Linked DNA regions of Homo sapiens: region 1 is linked to region 2. The links come from fine-mapping of genetic effects on gene expression. A gene starts in region 2. The other region holds a variant in brackets. All regions are shown on one strand. Distances are from middle to middle.

Evidence for each region. PIP is the estimated chance that this variant, and not a neighbour inherited with it, causes the effect.
Region 1: its variant is fine-mapped to the expression of CEP43 in whole blood (TOPMed, PIP above 0.99). The same link has a PIP of 0.9 or more in neutrophils.

Annotation. Positions count from the first base shown.
Region 1 is chr6:167,086,408-167,098,827 of GRCh38, reverse strand. No RefSeq gene overlaps it. Among named protein-coding and RNA genes, the nearest start is that of CCR6, 30 kb to the left of the region's middle. RefSeq lists enhancers at 3,283-3,362, 3,563-3,622, 4,953-5,322, 5,433-5,502, 6,388-6,447. The variant T/C (reference allele first, on the strand shown) is at 6,042.
Region 2 is chr6:166,995,528-167,003,527 of GRCh38, reverse strand. CEP43 (centrosomal protein 43) reads right to left here and starts at 4,131. Exons shown (of 13, transcript NM_007045.4): 1 at 4,014-4,131; 2 at 3,415-3,468; 3 at 281-335. The coding sequence starts at 4,115. It overlaps MIR3939 (microRNA 3939), which reads left to right and starts at 5,616; the gene lies at 5,616-5,721. RefSeq lists silencers at 3,670-3,759, 3,770-3,929, 4,020-4,539, 4,830-5,059 and an enhancer at 5,600-5,649.

The sequences.
Region 1 (12,420 bases), 93 kb before region 2:
CAGGGAGGAAAACTGCAGGGAGGTATGGGGAGCAGTGTGGAGGTGTCTCGGCGAGGTTCGTGCCTGGAGACTGGAATAAGGATGTTAGACTTGGGCTTTAGAAAGCAGGTACTTTGACCTGGGGACAGGGGCACTTCCATCATAAGAAACTTACTTCAAATTGTTAGAATAACGTGCCCCACACATCCACACCCAGATCGGTCCTGGGAAGCTTTCCCGGGCCTTGAGGAGCAGCGCAGCAGGAGTAAGGTCCAGGGTGGAGCGCTGAAGGATGCAGAGGCGTTTGCCACACAGGTGAGAGTCAGAGAGCACTCCAGGCCTGAGGGACTGTGTGACTCAGCCTGAGGCCAGGGAACCAGGTGCGGGAGAGAGAGCAGGGCTCCCCGATTATGACCTCCGGGCATCCACAGGACCCCACGTTTGTGCAGGGCACACTGGGGTTAGCGGGGGTGGTCTGGGCACCTAGAAGAGGCTTGGTGGAAAAAAATTGTTGCATTTCCTGTGTATAGGCGGAAGAATTATATATGAGAAAAGTAAAACAGGAGGTATCAGGGAAGGTATTGAACTGAATCAAACTTGCAAGCGGAATCTCTTCACTTTTTAAGTAGAAAACTGAGCTTGCATCCATGAACGTAGCTTTTTATATCTGGTATTAGGCTGGGAGTGGCTCTGTGGAATCCCCTTGATGAAGACATCTCCCTGTGTCGGAGCGCCGGCTCCAGCACCCGGAAGGACCCGAGAAGGCGGAAAGGCACCCTTGGAGCCCAAGACGACAGCCGCCCTGAGCTCCAAAAGGAAAGCTGTGAAGAAACCCAGGCGGCCATGACTCGACATCAGGAAACACTTCAGGCCACGCTGTCTAATGAACACCCTGTGGGCATTTAGAAGTAAACGGGACAAGCACTTCGCGTGCATCGGCCCCAGCCAGCCTTGGTTCGGTTCTGGCTGGGCCTTGAGCGCTGGGCTCGGGCAGCTCCACCTCCCGCAGATCTGGACTTCAGCAAAGCATCTCGCAGATTCCTTTAAAATCTCCTGAGAGGCCGGGCGCGATGGCTCATGCCTGTAATCCCAGTACTTTGGGAGGTCGAGGTGGGCAGATCACCTGAGGTCAGGAGTTCAAGACCAGCCTGGCCACCATGGCAAAACCCCCTCTCTACTAAAAATACAAAAATTAGCCAGGTGCAGTGGCAGCCACCTGTAATCCCAGCTTCTCGGGAGACTGAGGCAGGAGAATCGTTTGAACCCAGGAGGCGGAGGTTGCAGTGAGCCAAGATCGCACCATTGCACTCCAGCCCGAGTGACAAGAGTGAAACTCTGTCTCAAAAAAAGCAGAAAATAAATAAATAAAATCCCCTGAGATAAAATGGCAAATGTAGGCCGAATGACCCTGCTGCTTAGGTAGATTCCTTGCTGATTGAGTCACTTTGTACCACCAGGAATGGGAAGTGATATTTTTGGTGTGAAAAGAATTGATTAATGAAATGCTACATGATCGTGCCATTGGCCTTGTGCTGGTCAGAATTATTTTAAATCAATGAGTTGCATGCAAAAGGGAAAGATGATTATCAAACCTGCTGAATTCTAAGATCTGTGATGGACAACAGATGCTACAGATAGTGCTCAAGGTTCCATATTATCTCATGTGGTTGGAATTCTGAGCTGAAAACAATAAAATATGAAGATAAGGAAATTAGAAACATGTAGGTTTCCAGGGCTCTGTCTGGGACGCTGCTGTCCAGCAGGGATGTAACGTGAGCCACGTATGTCATTTTAATTTTTTAGCAGCCACATTCAAAAAAGCAAACCGAGGCCGGGCGCAGTGGTTCACACATGTAATCCCAGCAGTTTGGGAGGCCAAGGCAGGTGGATCACCTGAGGTCAGGAGTTTGAGACCAGCCTGGCCAACATGGAGAAACCCCATCTCTACTAAAAATACAAAATTAGCCGGGTGTGGTGGCGCATGCCTGTAATCCCAGCTATTTGGGAGGCTGAAGCAGGAGAATCTCTTGAACTCGGGAGATGGAGGTTGCAGCCTCCGCACTCCATCCTGGGCAACAGAGCAAGACTCCATCTCAAAACAAACAAACAAACAAACAAAACAAAGCAAACTGAAATTATTAATTTTCCAAATATTTTTATTTTAACTTGATATATCTAAAATATAATACATTCAACATGTAATCAATAAAAATTGTCAGTGAGATCGTTTAGATTTTTGTAGAAAGTCTTCAAAATCAGGTGTGTAGTTTATATTTATAGCACATCTCACTTCAGACTAACATGCTTCAAGCACTCTGTAGTCACACATGACTGGTGGCTACCATGTTGGATGGCACAGGTAGGGAAATTGGTATACATAAAAGTGATCAGACGAAGGTCATAGGTCACAAGTCTGATATAAGTCCCTGTCACAGATAATCCAGTCTTGGGCAGTGCTAGTAGTAGGGTGTATGAATTATCTATTGCCAAAACAACACTGCCCGAGAAACAACCCTAAAACCTCAGTGACACACAGTGATAACCATTCAACATTGCCCCCAAGTCTCCAGGGTGGTCCTAGGGCCACTATGACCTGGCCCAGCACACTCCCTGTCTGGTCAATCGGTCAGCCAGTGCAGGCTGGTCCAGAATGGCCTTGACAGGAACAACTCTTGTACCTCTTGTGCTCTGTCACCCTCATGCAGGCCAGCCCCAGCCTGCTGTCATGATGGAAGCTGGTTTCCAGCAGGGACCTGGTGGCACAGACTGGAACTGGCACAGCCTCACTTTGCTCACATTCCACTGGTCAAAGCAAGTCTCAGGCCAAGGCAGACTTGGGTGGGGAAGCAGACCCTCCACCTGCAATGGGAGGAGCTGTGGACCACATCCCAGAGGATGGGAGTGCCAGGAACCTATGCATGGGGGCCATCGGCACCATCAATCCACCTTAGCTGGTATTCCAGACGTGGACAGCAACAGGCCCACAGATTGCTATGCTCATCAGTAGAGAAATGGATCATTTCTTCCAGACCTGGACACCCTATCTTAGAAGTGATGTGAGTTGCGTTCAGAAACGCAACCTGAACGGTCACACATTGGGGACCATGCCTTTCCACAGCCACACATCGGGGGCCACACCCCTCTATAAAGAATTATAGCAAGTGAGTGTGTTTAGTCCCAAAATGAGAAAATTAGGGGGCAACATGAGAGCTACCTTCAAATTTTAAAGAGCTACTGTGTGGAAGAAAACAGTCTTGTTCTCAGTTCCCCTAATATTTTCTGAGGGCTCATTATATACTGTACCAGGAACTATGCTAGGTGCAGAGACAAAAGTAGAATAAGGGAAGTTTCCGTAGATACCAGCTCATCCAAAGAAGGACTTTCTAACACATGAATAAGTCACTACTATCCAATAATTCACTTGCCACAGGAGAGCTCTGAAACTGAAACTACTCAAGCAGCTGCATTGTCAAGGGAATTTCTTGCCCAGTTGTTGGTCACTGATCTACCTTCTAAGGGGTCTTCCAAATCTCAATGCTATAAGCTGGCCTTACGTGTGCCTGTTTGGCTTGTGGGGATATAATGTATCATACTTTACATGTACAGACACATCTAATATCTAATAGAGATATATCTAATCAGATATAACAACCTCAAGCAAACCCCAAGTTGCTAGGTGCTTAGTAAATTATTTTGTTACACTGAAGGCTGAAAAAGCACAGAATGATTAAATGACTCAAGATCACGTGAGACAATGGGATAAACTGGAACTGAAACAGACTGTGGGGTGCTGGTCTACGCAGTTCACAAAGCCCCCATTGCTGACTAACCACAAGCCCAGAGGGAAGGCACATAGACTACTGTGCCCCTGCTACTGGTTAGGTTTTTCTTTTACACAGAGAAATAATTTGACTTTATCTAGGCTGCTACAAAGCCAATTGTTAACAGAACTAGGATTAGAATTCAGAAGTACTAGGTGTCAGGTTTCTGTACAAAGAGCAATAGTATTCCACTGAAGCACTTCTGTTTCCCTACAAATACAACCTATCTGTGACTGTGAAACCTCAAGGAATTTGTATTGAGAACCGCTGGCGCGAAGCGGGTGATAACGATAAGAACAGGCATTGTGCACAGCTAGAGGAGCCGTCTGTGGAATGCCGATGGTCGTCTCTTGGTAGAAATAGTAAGAAACCTTAGAACTGATCTTCTTCATTCTGGAAGGCATGGAAACAGAGAACAAGCTGGCCACTGCAGAAAGTTGTAAGACCTTTCGAGGCTGGCTCGACTGCAGCTGCGTTTTGCTTGGCTGTGAGTTTGCAGAACTTTGAGGCTTTCGGGGGAAGGTAGCTAAATCTGTATCAGGGCCAAGGGCACCCCTGGGAAAATTAAGAAACACCTTCTCTTTTGAGGTTTAACTCGACTAAAACCTCTCTGATGATTAGGATGGCCTCAACGGAAGCCCACTGGCCAAAAGAACATCGATAGTTCCCAGGGGAAATAAGTCGTGAGGGAAGGAAGGGTCAACAGGAAACCAGGACTCAGGATCCTGGGCAGAGTCGGCTGGTTTCAGCACCGTCTGAGGCTCATCAGGAAGCTCCTCTCTCACCGACCGTGGCTCTCAGCACTCAGGGAGCGCCACTGAGCATGCGTGAGAACAGCCGCCCTCAGCTCGCGGGGGTGTCAGCTTCCTTTGAAAACCCCCTCGGGTCTGTGTGCACAAGGCTCTGAACTAACCCTAGTGGGTCACCACGCAGGGCCCCTTCTCAGCGCCTGCTCTCCGCTCCACGTGAGGGAAGCAAGGGCAGCGGAGAACGCGTCCCACGCAGTCAAGCCAGGGATGGGCCTCGGGCTTCCTTTCTCTGTCCACGATGCCTCTGGAAGCAGGATACGGCCCTCGAGGCGGGCTCCTGGGATTCCTGGGAACACGGGAGGGTGAGCTATGAGCAGGCCGGGGCAGGGCAATCATGGAGACTGGACTTTTGCTCATATGGGCAGAAGAGTGATCAGGAAATTATTCTGAATGTGAAAAGACATGGCCAGCGTGTGACCGGCAGATGTGTATCCTCCAGTGCTCTGGGAGAACGCAGCCCCGGCTGGTAGCCCGGGCCCGTTTCTGTGAGGTCAACACTCACACCACGGCCAATGTCAGGCAAACAACCCGGTGTCACCGAAGCAGGGTTGGTAAGAGAAGCACAGCCTGCCCCAGCTGATCGCAGCGCAGCCCAGGAGGCGAGGCCACCGCCCAGAGGATTCTGGAAACAGCTCGCCGGGGCGAAGACGCAGGCACAGACAGTGCCTTCCGTAGGGTTCCAAGTATGCAAAACCCTAGGGGAAGCCTCTTCTATTTAGTCACAGAAAACAGGTGAGCAGTTGCCTGGAGCAGGGAGAGACGGGGAGGGATTGACAGGAAGGGAGCTCAGGGAAGCTGGTGGGAGTAGAAAGTTCTAGATCTTGATTGGGGTTGCAGTTACACTGGAACACAGTCGTTGTCAAAACTCACTGAAGTGGACCCTGAGAATGGATGCATTTTGCTGTATGTAAGTTATCCCAATAAAGCTGATATTTAAAAATATGTAACACCCCTCCAAGCCAATGCTGATATTGTAAGGATGATTTTCAGTACTGGGCACCGAGCTTCAGTACTGGGCACCGAGCTTCAGTACTGGGCACCGAGCTTCAGTACTGGGCACCAGGGTAGGAGTGAGGTTCCCTGATTTTCAGTCTTTACGGAGCTTTTACCCAGAGAGCTGCAGAGGCAGCACTGGCCAGAATTACTTTGGAACGCACCGTCTGTTTCTTCCTTGTTGCTTTTCACTGGTTAGTAAGAAGATTCACGAAGCTCCTCTGCCTGGCCACCTCCCCCCAACATCAACACACACTGGCACAGGTTCTGGAGGGCATCATTCAGACCCATGCTGTAAACACCCTTTACAGGCTGAGCCCTGAGTCCGTTTCCTCAGCAAAGTACCACAAACAATGTGGTTTAAAACAACGGAAACCTACTTCCTCACTCTTCGGGGGCCAGAGGTCCGAAATCGAGGTGCTGTCAGGGGTGGCTCCAT[T/C]TGGAGGCTGTGCAGGGAACCGTCCCCAGCCTCGCTTCCCATTTCCGGTGGGGTCTGCAGTTCCTGGTGCCCCTTGACTTGTGAATGCATCACTCCAATCTATGCCTCCGTCTTCACAAACCCTCCGTCTCTGCGTTCTCTCCTGTTTTCATAAGGCCTGCCCTGAATGCAAGATAATTTCACTTTGAGTCCCATAACTAATTGCAACTGCAAAGGCTCTATTTCCAAATAATATAAAATAATATTCCAAATAATATTCTGCGTGAACATGAATTTTGGGAAGACACTATCCAGTTAATAATCATATTAACCGACTCCACTCCTACACGCTGTCTTCAGCCTAGAGCCTCCTGTGGAACTCCAGACGCCGACCCCCACTCAGAGTATTCAGAAGAGTCTCAGATCTGAAGCCAAACTCAATTTCACTCCCCAGACCTGTTCCTCCGACATGTGCTATCATCAAAGCAACAGTCAGTCCTTCCAACTGCTCAGGCCCCAAACCTTGCAGTCGTGCTTGGATTCTTTCTCCACATCAAATACGTCAGCAAAATCAGCAAATGTTCCTGGCCATCTCCAGGATGTATTAATAGTGTATATCCCACATTCATAGCCAGTCATTCCCACTCCTTCCTGCCCCAAACTTTTGCCCTCCAGAGAAGGCAAAGCTTTAGCATGATTCAAATCATGTCTGGATTCTGTTCTGAGCTCCCCAGGGCACCCCACATGCGCCAGGATAATGCCCTGTGTCCTCCCATGACTTAGAGGCCCCGTGGAGCCCTCGCCCTTGCCCTGCTCTCCTCCCGCTGCCCTGTGTCCTTCCCAGCTCTGTTGTTTATGCCAGTTGCCCCGGCAATCACACTGTGTCTGGGATCTGTCCAGCCGGTCCCTGCTCTAGGGCCCTGGTCCTTGCTGCTTCTCTCCCAGGTTGCTCTCCAGACAACCACACTGTCGGCCCCTTGGGTGTCTCAGTTCAAGCTTCCCTGACTACCCAGCTTAAAAGAGCTTCCCGATCCCAACTCCCTTCCTGGCTCTGATGCTGCTTCCTTTTCTCCTGGGCACTGGTCCCCTCCTGGCACGTTGTCGCTTGGATGTAAGGCCCCATAGAGAAGGCGCTTAGCCTGCATTCCTGCCTACCCAGGGTCTAGCGCAGACAGCAGGCGCTCAAGAAAGAGTTGCTGAGTGAGCGTGTGAATGAAGACTTGATGACTGACATACAAAATTAAAGAATCTGGGGTTTTTTAAAAGCTTATCTCATTTTTTGCAACAATCTTTAGACCTGATCTTCGATCAGCCTTTAGCTGATGTATAGATAGGGTGAGGTTGCCACAATCTGGGGTAGATCAGCTTTGTGACTTGTCATCTAAAAAGGGGAAGAGGTTTAACTTGAAAGAGAAAAAAAAAACAGTAGACGACCTTTATGTGGAACAGTTACGCGAAGCCTCATCGGTGGCCAGGCAACTTCCTTTCCAACTTCTTCTTACTCGGGACCCTCTGCCCATGTTTACATCTTGCCAAAGACCATGGAAACTGGTAAACATCTTGCCAAATAAAGCTGTTTAGACTGACTGAACATGCAAAGACGCCCTCTGTCCCTTGGACAACTACAGGTCAGGGAAATGAATGGAAGTCACATGAGACTCTACTCTTTCAAATTCCCTTTTAAAGTGGAAATTCCCTCGCTTGGTTATAGTATTAAAGGGAACAAGCCTAAGAAGTGGAATTACAGGAAAAATGGGCACGTGAGGATATGAGAGTATAGATGGTGTACGCTCATAGATGGTACAGAGTAGATGGGCATCATTTGGATAGAGAAACACAAAACACTCTTTGCTGAACTTGAAGATGATATTGCTGGTTAAGAGCACAGACTTGGGAATTATATCAGCATTTGAATCTCGACTCTTGACCCTACTACTTCCTAATGGGGTGATGTGTGTAAAGTTGTTAATCTTTCTGAGCCCTACCTGCCTCATGTGTGGTATATAGAGATGCAGGCACCTCAAAGGCCTGAGTCTGACACACAGTGGATGGCGAAAATTGGAGAGCTGGAGGAGGAGAGGCACATAGGTCATGCCTAAGTCATGAGAACATACAAACAACAAAATCAACAATAGAAATCTAGCTTCACTTGATTGATCCAGCTTGTCGGAAGATTGCTAAGAGATTCCACTCAACAACTAAACCGCCGTTCCACACTATGATTGCTGACTTGAGGCTGGTAACACCTTTTGGGAACGCTGTCTTGGGAACGTTCACAGGAAAATTGCTCCTTTGGGTACAAGGTTTTGAGATACAATCTCTGGGTCAATGAGTACTTTACATACAGGAACCCCAAAATGGAGGAAGTAGGCTATGGAGGAACAAGAAAAGAAGGGAAAAACAAAGCAGCCACAGAGGCGAGGTGGCTGCTCCCCTTCCTGCCACCTGGAGGAAGTTGGAGGCTAGTTCTGGAGACATCACAGTTTCTATTACTTTGGTTACTTGGCAGAGCCTAAAAACTTCCTCTTGTGTGGAAGAAAGAAAATCCTTTCTGTGTTGCTCCCTGGAGGGAAGAAAACCAGGCTGACTCTTGCTTCCATTTGAGGAGCTCAAAGGAAGCCATTTCCCACGATGGTCCCCCAGGCACAATCCTGCATGGAGCCCAGCCCTGGCCCACAGCTCCTTGACTACAATCCCCTTGACCCATTCATCACCCTTGCCACTGGCCCTATTCTTTGTGACTTGGCTCAACACTGGTGACTTCTTCTGCTGCCCTATTCACCTCCAGTCTGAGACTCAGGAGCATGTGGCCACCTGCTGCCACAGAGATGCCACACACATGGCCCAACGCCAACGGGGTCGCTTAAAATACATTGCTGATCTGTGGCCTATGTCTGGAGGAAAGGGGCCGGTGGGGTCCTACAGTGACCCGAGAGGCTCCTATTCTGAACCACAGAGAGCACCACACCAAGAGGCTGGTGTGATATGCTGCTGGGCCCACAGTTTTCATGGGCCCCATGTGCCTGGAGTGAAAGGTCTTTAGATCAATCAAAGAGATCCAGTGTCTGGGGAGTTCTTGTTTCTTCACACTGACCACTTCAATAACGCAAGGACGGGGATTTTCTTGGCTTTGACCAAGGCTGCAGTCTCTCCAGAGCTGAAAACTCAAGTTACTTCTGCCTGGTTCTGGCCTCCCCTGACTCGGCTCTGCCATTAACCAGTAAAACTAGTATCTCCTGTTCTAGAGGGAGGTCGTCATCCTGGTAGAGGGCCATGTGTAAGGATCTGCACCCCTCTGTTTAATTCTCCAGGAAGGTCACTGCAGCTGAGGTCAACTTCCTCCCCAGAGAAGCAAAACCTGTTGGCTGCAGAGGCTGCTTGTTAAACAGAGAGGCGTTACCTCCAGGAGATGTGTGACATCAGACTTTTCAGGGATAGTGCCCAGAAAGCTCAGAAACTTTGCTTAACAAACTCTTCCAGGTGATTCTGATATTAGCTAAATCTGAAAACCACAGAATTAAATGATGTTAGTTTTTTTCCCTCGAAATTTAAGTTTCATACTGACCCTTGAACTACTTATACTGAAAACATTTCAAACATTGATAGTTCATTGATACTAGCAACTGATCTGAAATTATTACTTTGCCTAAAAAAAACTGACAATTTCAGAATATTATCATTCCTTAGTAGTTTGCATTTATGACATTAGATAGTTCCAACTCCTTCCTCCACTTTGTGCAAATGATTTCATGTATCTTATTTCTACATCTGTCATAAACCCTGTTTACTATTTTTAATTTAGTTAACAATTTTTTTTTTTTTTTTGAGACAGGGTCTCACTCTGTTGCTCAGGCTGGAGTGCAGTGGTGCAGTCATGCCTGACTGCAACCTCACCCTCCTGGGCTCAACCTCCTTGCCTCAGCCTCCTGAGTAGCTGGGACTACAGGCATACACCACCATGCCCAGCTAATTTTTGTATTATTTGTAGAGACAGGGTTTCACCATGTTGCCCAGACTTGTCTCAAACTCCTAAACCCAAGCCATCTGCCCATCTCAGGCTCCCAAAGTGCTGGGATTACAGGCATGAGCCACTGCACCTGGCCACCATAGTTGACAGTCTTTTAAAGAATCAGCCATGAGAAAATGTTTTTAATATCCACTTTTACTATTTCTGGTGCTCACTTCTCTGTGTAACCCCAAATTTTTATCTGGTATAATTTTCCTATAGCCTAAAGAACTACCTTTAACATTTATTGTAGCACAAGTCTCTCAGCAGTGAGTTATCTTAGTTTTTCAGGGTCTAAAAAGCTTTTATTTTTGCCTTTAATTTAAAACAATATTTTAATGGATCTGTAATAGAATAATAGAATTCTGGATTAATTGTTTCAGTACTTTAAGATGTCAGTTCATTAACATCCAGCTTACATGTCTGACAAGAAATCTATTACAATTATCTTTCTTCTTGGGTATGTAATGTCCCCCACAACTCCCAAATGCATTCTACATTTTCTCCTTATCTTTGGTTTTAAAAAGTTTGATTTTATGTGTCTAGGTGGGGTTTTTTTTTTTTTTGGTATGGAGATTTTTTATTTGTTTTTGTATTTATACTGTTGGGATTCCCTGAGCTTCTTGGACCTGAGGTTTGCTGTCTTGCATTATATTTGCAAATTATCTCTTTAAATATTTCTTCTGTTTTATTCCTTGCTGTTTGTTTGCTTGTTCTGGGACTCCAACTGCATGTACATTAGATGATCTCACAGCTCTTGGAGGCCTTGTTAGACAGAGTTTTTCCCTCTATTTTATGTTTTTTTTTTTGTTGTTTTTTTTTTTTTTTTTTTTCTGAGACAAGAGTGTCACTCTGTCGCCAAGGCTAGAGTGTAGTGGTGTAATCTTGGCTCACTGCAACCTCCGCTTCCTGGGTTCAAGCAATTCTCCTGCCTCAGCCTCCCGAGTAGCTGGGACTGCAGGCATATGCCCCCACACCAGGCTAATTTTTGTATTTTTAGTAGAGATGGGGTTTCACTGTGTTGTCCAGGCGGGTCTTGAACTCCTGACCTTGTGATCCACCTGTCTTGGCCTCCTGAAGTGCTGGGATTACAGGCATAAGCCACTGTGCCCAGCCCATTTTATGTTATTTGTGTGTCATTTTATATGATTCCTGTTGACCTATCTTCAAGTTCCTTAATCTTTCTTCAGCTGAGACTAGTTCACTGATAAGCTTTCTGAAGGAATTCTTTATGTCTTATATATTTTTTGTAGCATTCCCACATGTCTTTTATACTCTCTATCTCTCTGCTGAAATTTCCCATCTGTTCATGTATGCCATATGCCTTTTCCTCTAGATCATTTAACAAATTCTTCAGGGCTTTTTTGTATTGTTTTGTTTTTGTTTTTGTTTTGTTTTGAGATGGAGTTTTTGTTCTTGTCGCTCAGGCTGGAGTGCAATGGTGCAATCTTGGCTCACTGCAACCTCTGCCTTCTGGGTTCAAGCAATTCTCCTGCCTCAACCTCCCTAGTAGCTGGGACTATAGGCACCCAGCACCACGCCTGGCTAATTTTTGTCTTTTTAGTAGAGATGGGGTTTCACCATGTTGGCCAGACTGGTCTCGAGCTCCTGACCTTAGGTGATCTGCCCACTTTGACCTCCCAAAGTGCTGAGATTACAAGTGTGAGCCACCATGCACAGCCTCATCAGAGTTATTTTAAAGCCCCTGTCTTAGAGTTCCCACATCTGGGCCATCTTGAATTCTGGTTCTATTGATTGATTGCTTTATAAGTTGACTATGAGTTGTTTTTGTTTTTGTTTTATTTTGTTTTCTTAACTGTCATTTTTTGATTTACTGCTGGAAATCATGTGTAAAAGTAGACACTGTTTATGCCCTTAAAAAATAGTTTCATGTCAGGGTGAGGCATCGCCTCACCCGGGAAGCACAAGGGGTCAGGGAATTCTCTCTCCTAGCCAAGGAAAGGGGTGACAGACGGCACCTGGAAAATCGGGTCACTCCCACCCTAATACTGCACTTTTCCGACAGTCTTAGCAAACGGCACACCAGGAGATTATATCCTGTGCCTGGCTCAGAGAATCCCATGCCCACGGAGCCTCACTCATTGCTAGCACAGCAGTCTGAGATCAAACTGCAAGTTGGCAGCGAGGCTGGGGGAGGGGTGCCCGCCATTGCCAAGGCTTGAGTAGGTAAACAAAGTGGCCTGGAAGCTCGAACTGGGTGGAGCCCACCGCAGCTCAAGGAGGCCTGCCTGCCTCTATAGACTCCACCTCTAGGGGCAGGGCATAGCCAAACAAAAGGCAGCAGAAACCTCTGCAGACTTGAATGTCCCTGTCTGACAGCTTTGAAGAGAGTAGTGGTTCTCCCAGCATGCAGCTGGAGATCTGAGAACGGAC
Region 2 (8,000 bases):
TGTAACTAACTGTAAGACAATCATCTCATAGATTTCAGTGTTTCGCTTTTTAATGGTTAATATTGGCTTTTTGTAGTAAAACTGGCTTTAAGCAACAACATCCCAAATCCAAAAATATGTAATAGCAACACGATTGTTGTACAATAAAATATTATTTTAAAATGAGGACCTATAACAATTGAAGACAAAAAAAAAGCCCTGAAATTCCTGATTTCTCCCAAATGGTATCAAGATTCAAAAATTCAGAGATAGATAAACAAGAACAAACTGAACATCTTACCGTCTTTGGTATTTAAAAACTTTTTCAGGCTCTCATTAACTAAAGGAGTTTTGTTCTGTTAAAAAAAAAAAAATTTAAGTGTCATGTGTTTACCCTAAAAACAACTACAAAATATAAAGTTTAACGTTTTCATTGATAAAATTATGGTTTTACAAAATCCATTCTACAACTGTTAATTACTACAGGACTTACTTTGTGCTATTTAGTAATTTCTCAAAGTTAATATAACAAAACCATATATGAAGATTTGTATTTTTAATTTTTAAATGTTTTATAAACTGCTTTTGAAGCTAGATATTTTCAAATACCTGTGTGAAATACAATTAAATGTCAACAACTGTTTATTATTTCAAATACATGAAGTTTGATAAAAGTTTTGTCATCTCAGGTATCTACCATTTATAGCATACTTACTATGAACAGGAATTTAATTATACACTTGTAATTCCCAGTTTATCCATGAAATGTGAGATGATCTTATGCGGCCCATAGGCCAACTTATTTTTGTAATTATACATTTATTTGAATAAGTATGGAAAAAATACTTCTAGACCATCAAGCCTGTGATTGTTGCTGAGAAGAGGCTACAGTAGGTAGCACATGGTAAGCTTCCTTAAGACCACATTAATTGCTGCTACAGTGGCAGCCTCATACACTGCTGATGGGAATGCAAAATGGCATAACGAGTTTGGACAGCAATTTGGTAGTGTTTCTTAAAAGTCACAAATATTCCTAGCATGTGACCTAGTCACTTCACCTCTACATATTTTCTCAAGAGAAATCACAGATCCAAGCAAAGACTTGTATGTGACTGTTCACAGAAACCTTATTTGTAATACTCAAAAACTGGAAACAGCCTAAATGTCTGTCAGCAGGTAATGGCTAAACTGTCATATCTGTACAATGTATTAATGAAATGATTTATTAATACATACCACAACATGAATGAATTTCAAATGCATTATGTTGAAGAAACAGACCAAAAAAAAAGAGTACCTACTATACGATTCCATTTATATAATTCTTAAAAAGGTTTGGGGTGGGGGAGAGGGTTACATAAGGGGCACAAGGAAAACTTTTGAAGGTCAAAAGTTTGAAGGATATGCGCAGTACCTTGATTGTGATGATCATTTCACAGCTGCATAAATTAACTATTAAAAATCAAATTGTACATATTAAATACTTTAGCTTTACTATAGGTCAATTTTACCTCAATAAAGTTGTTAAAATAAAAGACAAGGAGAGGAGAGATCCTCAAGGTAGTTGGTAGGCTGGTTCAGGGAATTCTAAGATAGGGAGTCAACTGAAATATTTTAAGAGAATGGAGGGACAGATCAGATGTGTACTATAAACAGCCAATCTAGGAGCAATGTGGAAAAAGGACTTCAGGGAGATGGTGAGGGACACCACGGAAACGGAGACTGGCAAGTAGGAAGGGGATAAGGCAATCTGGAAAAGAAGAAACAAGCACAAAGGAGGCAGCAGAGCACTCCCTTGGGGACACTTCAGATACACACCTGACAGACACAGAGCCAGGTGATGGCTGAGCAGGTGGAAAGAAGAGCAAGGCCTAAGAAACGCTTAGATTTCTTGCCAGATAAATGATGGTCCCATTAAGGGCATAATACAGTGGGCAGTTTAACATACAGGTCTGAAGCTCGGGAAAGAAACATGCATGAAAGTTACAGGGCTGGAGTTACTGGATGAATAAGGTCAGTCTGTGAGACAGTACAGAATGACAACTGTGGATAAGTCTCAGTCAGGTGTACAGGAAAAAGATCATGCTAAAGAAACCAAGGAGTGGTCAAAACCAGGTTGTGAAGGAAAAAAACCACAGCGGTATTAAAAGCAGAATGTGAGTAAAGGAAAACAGTTTACTCCTAATAGTTATTTAAACATGTTTTCAAGCTCAAAAGAAAAGCCATCAGAAAAGGAAGGGGTCAAAGATACAGTAAATAATTAAAGACTTGAAAGTATACACAAGACAGAGTGATTATTCTTGGACAGGACAGAGCCTCTTCTTCTAAAGCAGTAAGGAAAGAGGTACAGATAAACATAGACACAGGTAAGCATTTTCACAGGTGAGCAATAGATTGAGGGACAGGAGAGGAGGACATAAAGTTAGGATCTAATGGCTTCTACCTTCCCTGTGGAGGAAGCAACAAGACCATGTGTTCAGAGAGAAGGAAGCAGGGGTGACATAGAAGGCTACTGCACAGCTAGGGTGAAGAAGAGAGCTGCTGGGCCTGCTCAGGACCTAACCAGGTTGGTACCTGCCAATTTGCAACATCAGCAATCCACAGGATTGACTGACTCTTCTCCAAGAGCACATATGTGCAAAGTGGGAAGAGTTAGTTTGCTGGGTTAAATGACCACTGAGATTTCTTCCAGACCACGTATGACCGTTAAGGCAAGGTAATTAGGGGTCCAGACCCATAGGGTCCAGAGCAAAATGCTGCCAAGAGAAGACTGATGCCTGCACAGACATGGAAAGGGCAAAGAACTGAAGATTTTGATGAAATTAGAGATTAGGTATACAGGTCTAAAGAAGTGAGAGGACAGTAGACTGATTTGTCATACAGCAAGAGTTTAAGGCTTTGATGATGGTTCTATTCTTGTTGACAAATTCCAGAATATTTACTCAGGATGGTTGGTGGGACTCCGAAAAAGTTAAATTACCCACTTAAATATAGAGTAGTGGCTGCACTTTTAAAATAATCGCTGTCTTTTTCATTGTCAAAATAATTGAGTGGTCAGATAATTTTGGGAAAAGTTGCATACTATATACCCCGTTTCATAGGGATTAATAACATATTAGCTTACTAAAGGATCTGAGTGAACCTGCACTTAACACATTGACAATGGCACCATTTCTTCAAGAAACTCCTATGACCATTTGTTTCAGATTAAGCATTAGTATCAGAGTTACTGTGGTACCTTAAGATTACCCCCAAATTCAAAAGCTACACGAAAAAAGAATAATTTTGGCTCTCTCTCAATAGTAATGTAATCCTTAACAGTTCAAAATTATCCCTAGCTATATGTTACTATAAACTATTTTTAAGACGGTTTTTAATGAATAAGAAATTAAGTATTAACGAATACAGCCATGTTAAAATCTGGAAACTTCATACCTCTACTTTTTCTTGCTCCTCTAGTGCTAAAAACACAGCTGCTCGGAGTTCAGCCTTAAAAAAAAGTTAAGAAACAGGAAATTATAATTTCAAGACAATTTTCACAACAAGCTCACATTTATCCAGCAACAAACACGAGCAAGCCAACGAGCTGGGAGGGCAGGTGCAAAGGTCAGAAACGCCTTCCGAAACGTTCTCAGTCACACAAGCTCTCCGACCCCCAGGCTTCGGCTGGACGCGCTGCTTTCCCGCCGCGGATCATGCCCGAGCCTGAGGAAGAGACGCTGGGGCCGCACTCCAGGGCCCAGCTGCGGGCCGCCCGTGTGGCCCCCAAGCCCCGCGGTCCCGCCCCCACGGAATGAGGCAGGGGATGGGCCAGGCACCCCCAGTCCGCGGTGCCCTCCGGGACCACACGAACGAACGAGCCGACCCCCTCTGTGGGGCGGGCAGGACGGAGGCCATGCCGGGGCGCGCCCCCAGTGCCCGCCGGCCCCGGTCCCTCGCCAGGGAGGCGGCCTCCTCGCCGCGACCGTTGTGACGCCCGCTGTCCACGCAAGCCCTGCGGATCCGCCAGGCCCGGCCCCAGCCTCCGGCCTCACCTTGATGCGGTTCAGGACCCCGCTGTTCTCCAGCGTCTGCACCAGCAGGTCCCGCAGCTCCGTGTCCTCCTCGGCCACCACTGCGGCCGCCGTCGCCGCCATCTTGCTTCTCCAAGACAACCGCCGAAGCCGCGCTAACGGCCAACGGCCGCAGCAGGGTACGCTCCGCGCGCGGGCTACGCGGCCGACGCAGCCAAAGCCCCGCCCCGACGCGCAGCGCGCTGGCCCTGCCCCCTGGCGTCGGGAGGCGGGGCATAGAGACCTCGGGGTTGACGCTGGACACCGAGCCTTGGGGAGCGCCGGACCACTGAGCGCCGAAACTTAGGGTCGGCGCTGGGGGCGGGGCTGCGGGGCGCGGGTGGGCACGCAAGGGGCGGGGCGTCGGCGGGGCCTCCAGCCGGCAACCCGTTGGCTGCCGTCGCCTGAGGCGCGAGCTTTGAAGCCGGCGAGCGGTGAGGAGGAGGCGCCCTCGCGTGTGGAGAGCGGACTCCGCCTGGACTCCACCGCCCACGGCCGCATCCCATCGCCGCACAAGATCGCCGGAGTCATATTATCGACGTAGTTAAAGCCCACTAGCCTAAAGCCGGGCGGACTGCGGTAAGGAGGCCCCGAGACCGAACCTGCAGCCCCTGCAGCCCCGGGGGGGCGCCGGGGAAGGGACTCCCGAGAGGTCGCGAGGGGCGGAAGGCCCTGCAGGTTGTCACCCGGAAATAACGTTCTGAGGCCCCCCAGCCAGGCGAACGCACCCTGCTCGGCCACGGCCTCCGAGGCTAACCGGAAAGGTGCCAGGCCGAGGTGCAGGGGCGGGATGGCCCCAGGAAGAGCCGAGGGCCGAGGAGGGCGTTGGGTGGGCTCCGCGCTGCCCGAACTGGGGCCGCAGTCTCCACTCCCTCCTGCCCCGCGGCCCTCCGCCGACAGCCAGGCGCCGGCGGGGAGTCCTGGACCCCTCCCGGGCCCTGGAAGCCCCGTCCCGCCGGAGCTGACGCGCCCTCTTGGTATCCATCCGGCCGCCTGGGCTGCCCCTCGCCCCTCGCCTTGGCAAAACCAGCCCCCGGACCGAGCCCTGCCTTGGAGAGTGTGGGTGCGCAAGGCCAGCCGAGCTGTCGGTTCCGGGGTTTCGGGGTGCGCCACTGTATGGCGGCGTAAGCCGAGAAGTGTCCGAGGCCGGGCTCCAGCAGTTGAGAGGCTGATTTGGCCACGGTGAAGGACGCGCCCGGAGGAAGGAAACGGGAATCCGAAACGGGCGGTGGCCGCGCCTTTCCCGAGGCCGGCGTCGAGGGCTTCAGCGCCTCAGGGTGGGCGGGAGGGGAAGGTCGTGCGACCCGCGTGGCCGGCGGAAAGGAGCAGCGGGAGCCGCGGCCGTAGGGAAGCCACGGGAAGACGGGCGGCTGCGCTGCGATGCGCGGCCCTCTCCCTGAAGCCCTCGGCTCAGGCGCCACAGGAAAGGCTCCTTCGGGCAGGCCTCAGCTTTCAGCTTAAGTTTTTTTCCTTTGGCCGAGTCAACTGCGGTGCCGAGTTGTATTTTCCTTTCAGAGGTGTGTCCGAGAACCATTCTTAGGAGACGCCTGCCGGCCGCTTTGGGATAGGGCCTGTCTGCCCATGCTGGCTTCCAAAGGCCTCTGTGTGTTCCTGTATGTGGGCGTGCACGTACCTGTCACATGTGTACGCGCAGACCACAGGATGTCCACACTGGCTTCCAAACACATCTCTGTGTTTCTGTCTGTGAGTGTGTACGCAGGTGTCAAATGTGTACGCACAGATCACAGGGTGTCCACACTGGCTTCCAAACACGTCTCTGGGTTCCTTTATGTGCGTGTGTATGCACTTGTCATGTGTACACACAGATCACAGGGCATCCACACTGGCTTCCAAACATGTCTCTGTGTTTCTGTCTGTGGGTATGTACACACATATCACATGTGGAAGAGGTAGGAAGAGGCTGGAACAGGTAAGGGTCATGAAGGTGCAGTGCACTATTGTACTGTTTGCGCTTTATATGTGTTTGGTTAGTTTTGCAAGAACATGCTGGTGAAGGAGAGAGAACCCCAAACAATTGATTAGCAGTGCTACTGAAACTCAGATATACACAGGAATGGCAAAGAAACATCTATGAAAAAAAGCAGATTCTGGAACTCCATCTCCCTGAGATTGTCACTCATGGGGTCTGCAGGAAGTTTCAGGAATCTGCATTTTCTTCTAATAAACGTGGTCCACAGGTTATAAGTTGAGATACAAATAGAATATATAAAGTAAAAAAGGAAAATTTGAAGTTTCCTGCCTAGCCCAACTCTTCTCATTGGTAGTGTCTGTTAAATTGGAAACATATCTCTTTCCAGACATATTAATACCTTTTATACAGTTGACTCTTGAACAACATTAGTTTGAACTGCGTGAGTACACTTATATGTGGATTTTTTTCAGTAAATGGAATATTTTTGGCGATGGCAACAATTTTGTGAAAAACCTCACAGATGAGTCGCTTAGCCAAGAAATATGGAAAAAAAAAGAAAAGAAAAAGCTAGATATGTCATGAATGCATAAAATATATGTAGATACTAGGCCATTTTATTATTTACTATCATAAAATATATACAAGCCTGTTATAAAAAGTTAAAATTTATCAAAACTTACACGTACAAACAGACAGTTACATGGCACCCATTAGGTTCAAGAGAGGTGTAAACAGTTGTAAAGATGCAATATTAAATAATAACTGCATCAAATTCACTGTAGTACATAGAGTACTACTGTAATGATTTTGTAGCCACCTCCTGTTGCTATTGCAGTGAGCGTCAGTGTTGCTGGTATTGGCTAAAAATTCCAAGTAACATAATCATCTCTGAGTGAGCAGTTGATCTCTCCAGTACATTGCATATCACAGTAAAAGGTAAGCTCTTGAGGTTCTCACATATTTCTCGTTGTGTTCACTGCAGTACTGTAAACCTTGCGTAACACCATGGGACCATTACGAAGTGCCGCTAGTGGTGCTGGAAATGCTCCCAAGAATCAGAGAAAAGTTAATGACATTACAGAAAAAGCGGAATTGCTTGCTGTGTATTGTAGATTGAGGTCTGCAGCTAAGGTCGCCTGCCATTTTAAGATAAATGAATCCAGTATAAGGACTGTGGTATAAAAACAAAAGGAAGTTTATGAAGCCATCGCTGCAGCTACACCAACAAGCATGAAAACCTTGCACTTTTTGGGAAATACCTTTTTATCTCATATTGCAAATGCAGCTTTTTGTGGGTGCAGGATTGCTATGAGAAAGGCATACCTATATAATCTAATATTCAAGAAAAAGTGAAGTCATTATCTGACAAAGCAAAAGGAAGATGAAGGAAGGTATGATAATTTTAAAAAGTGGGTTGGCTTTCAAAAAATGTCAAGATAACAGGAGAAGCAGCTTCTGCTGACCCAGATGCAGCCGACGAGTTCCCAGATACCATTAAGGAAATTATTGAGGACAAAAGGCCAGGCTTTGTGGCTCATGCCTGTAATCCCAGCACTTTGGAAGGCTGAGGTGGGTGGATTGCTTGAAGCCAGGAGTTCGAGACCAGCCTGGCCAACATGGCAAAACCCTGTCTCTTCTAAAAATACAAAATTTAGCCAGGTGTGGTGGTGCACATCTATAATCCCAGCTACTGAGGAGGCTAAGGCATGAGAATCGCTTGAACCCAGGAGGCAGAGGTTACAGTGAGATTGCACCACTGCACTCCAGCCTGGGAGACAGAATGAGACTCTCTCAAAAAAAAATAAATAAAAAATAAAAATAAAAAAAAATAGAGAAAATCACTGAGGAGAAAAGATATCTGCCTGAACAGGTTTTTAAGGCAAACGAAAATGCCCTATTCTGGGGGAAAATAGTGCCACAGAGGATATTTATTAGGAAGAGAAGTGAACATCAGGATCCAAGGCGGGAAGGGATGGGCTAACTGTACTGTTTTGTGCAAATGCAGCCAGATGTATGATCAGGACTGCCCTTATCTA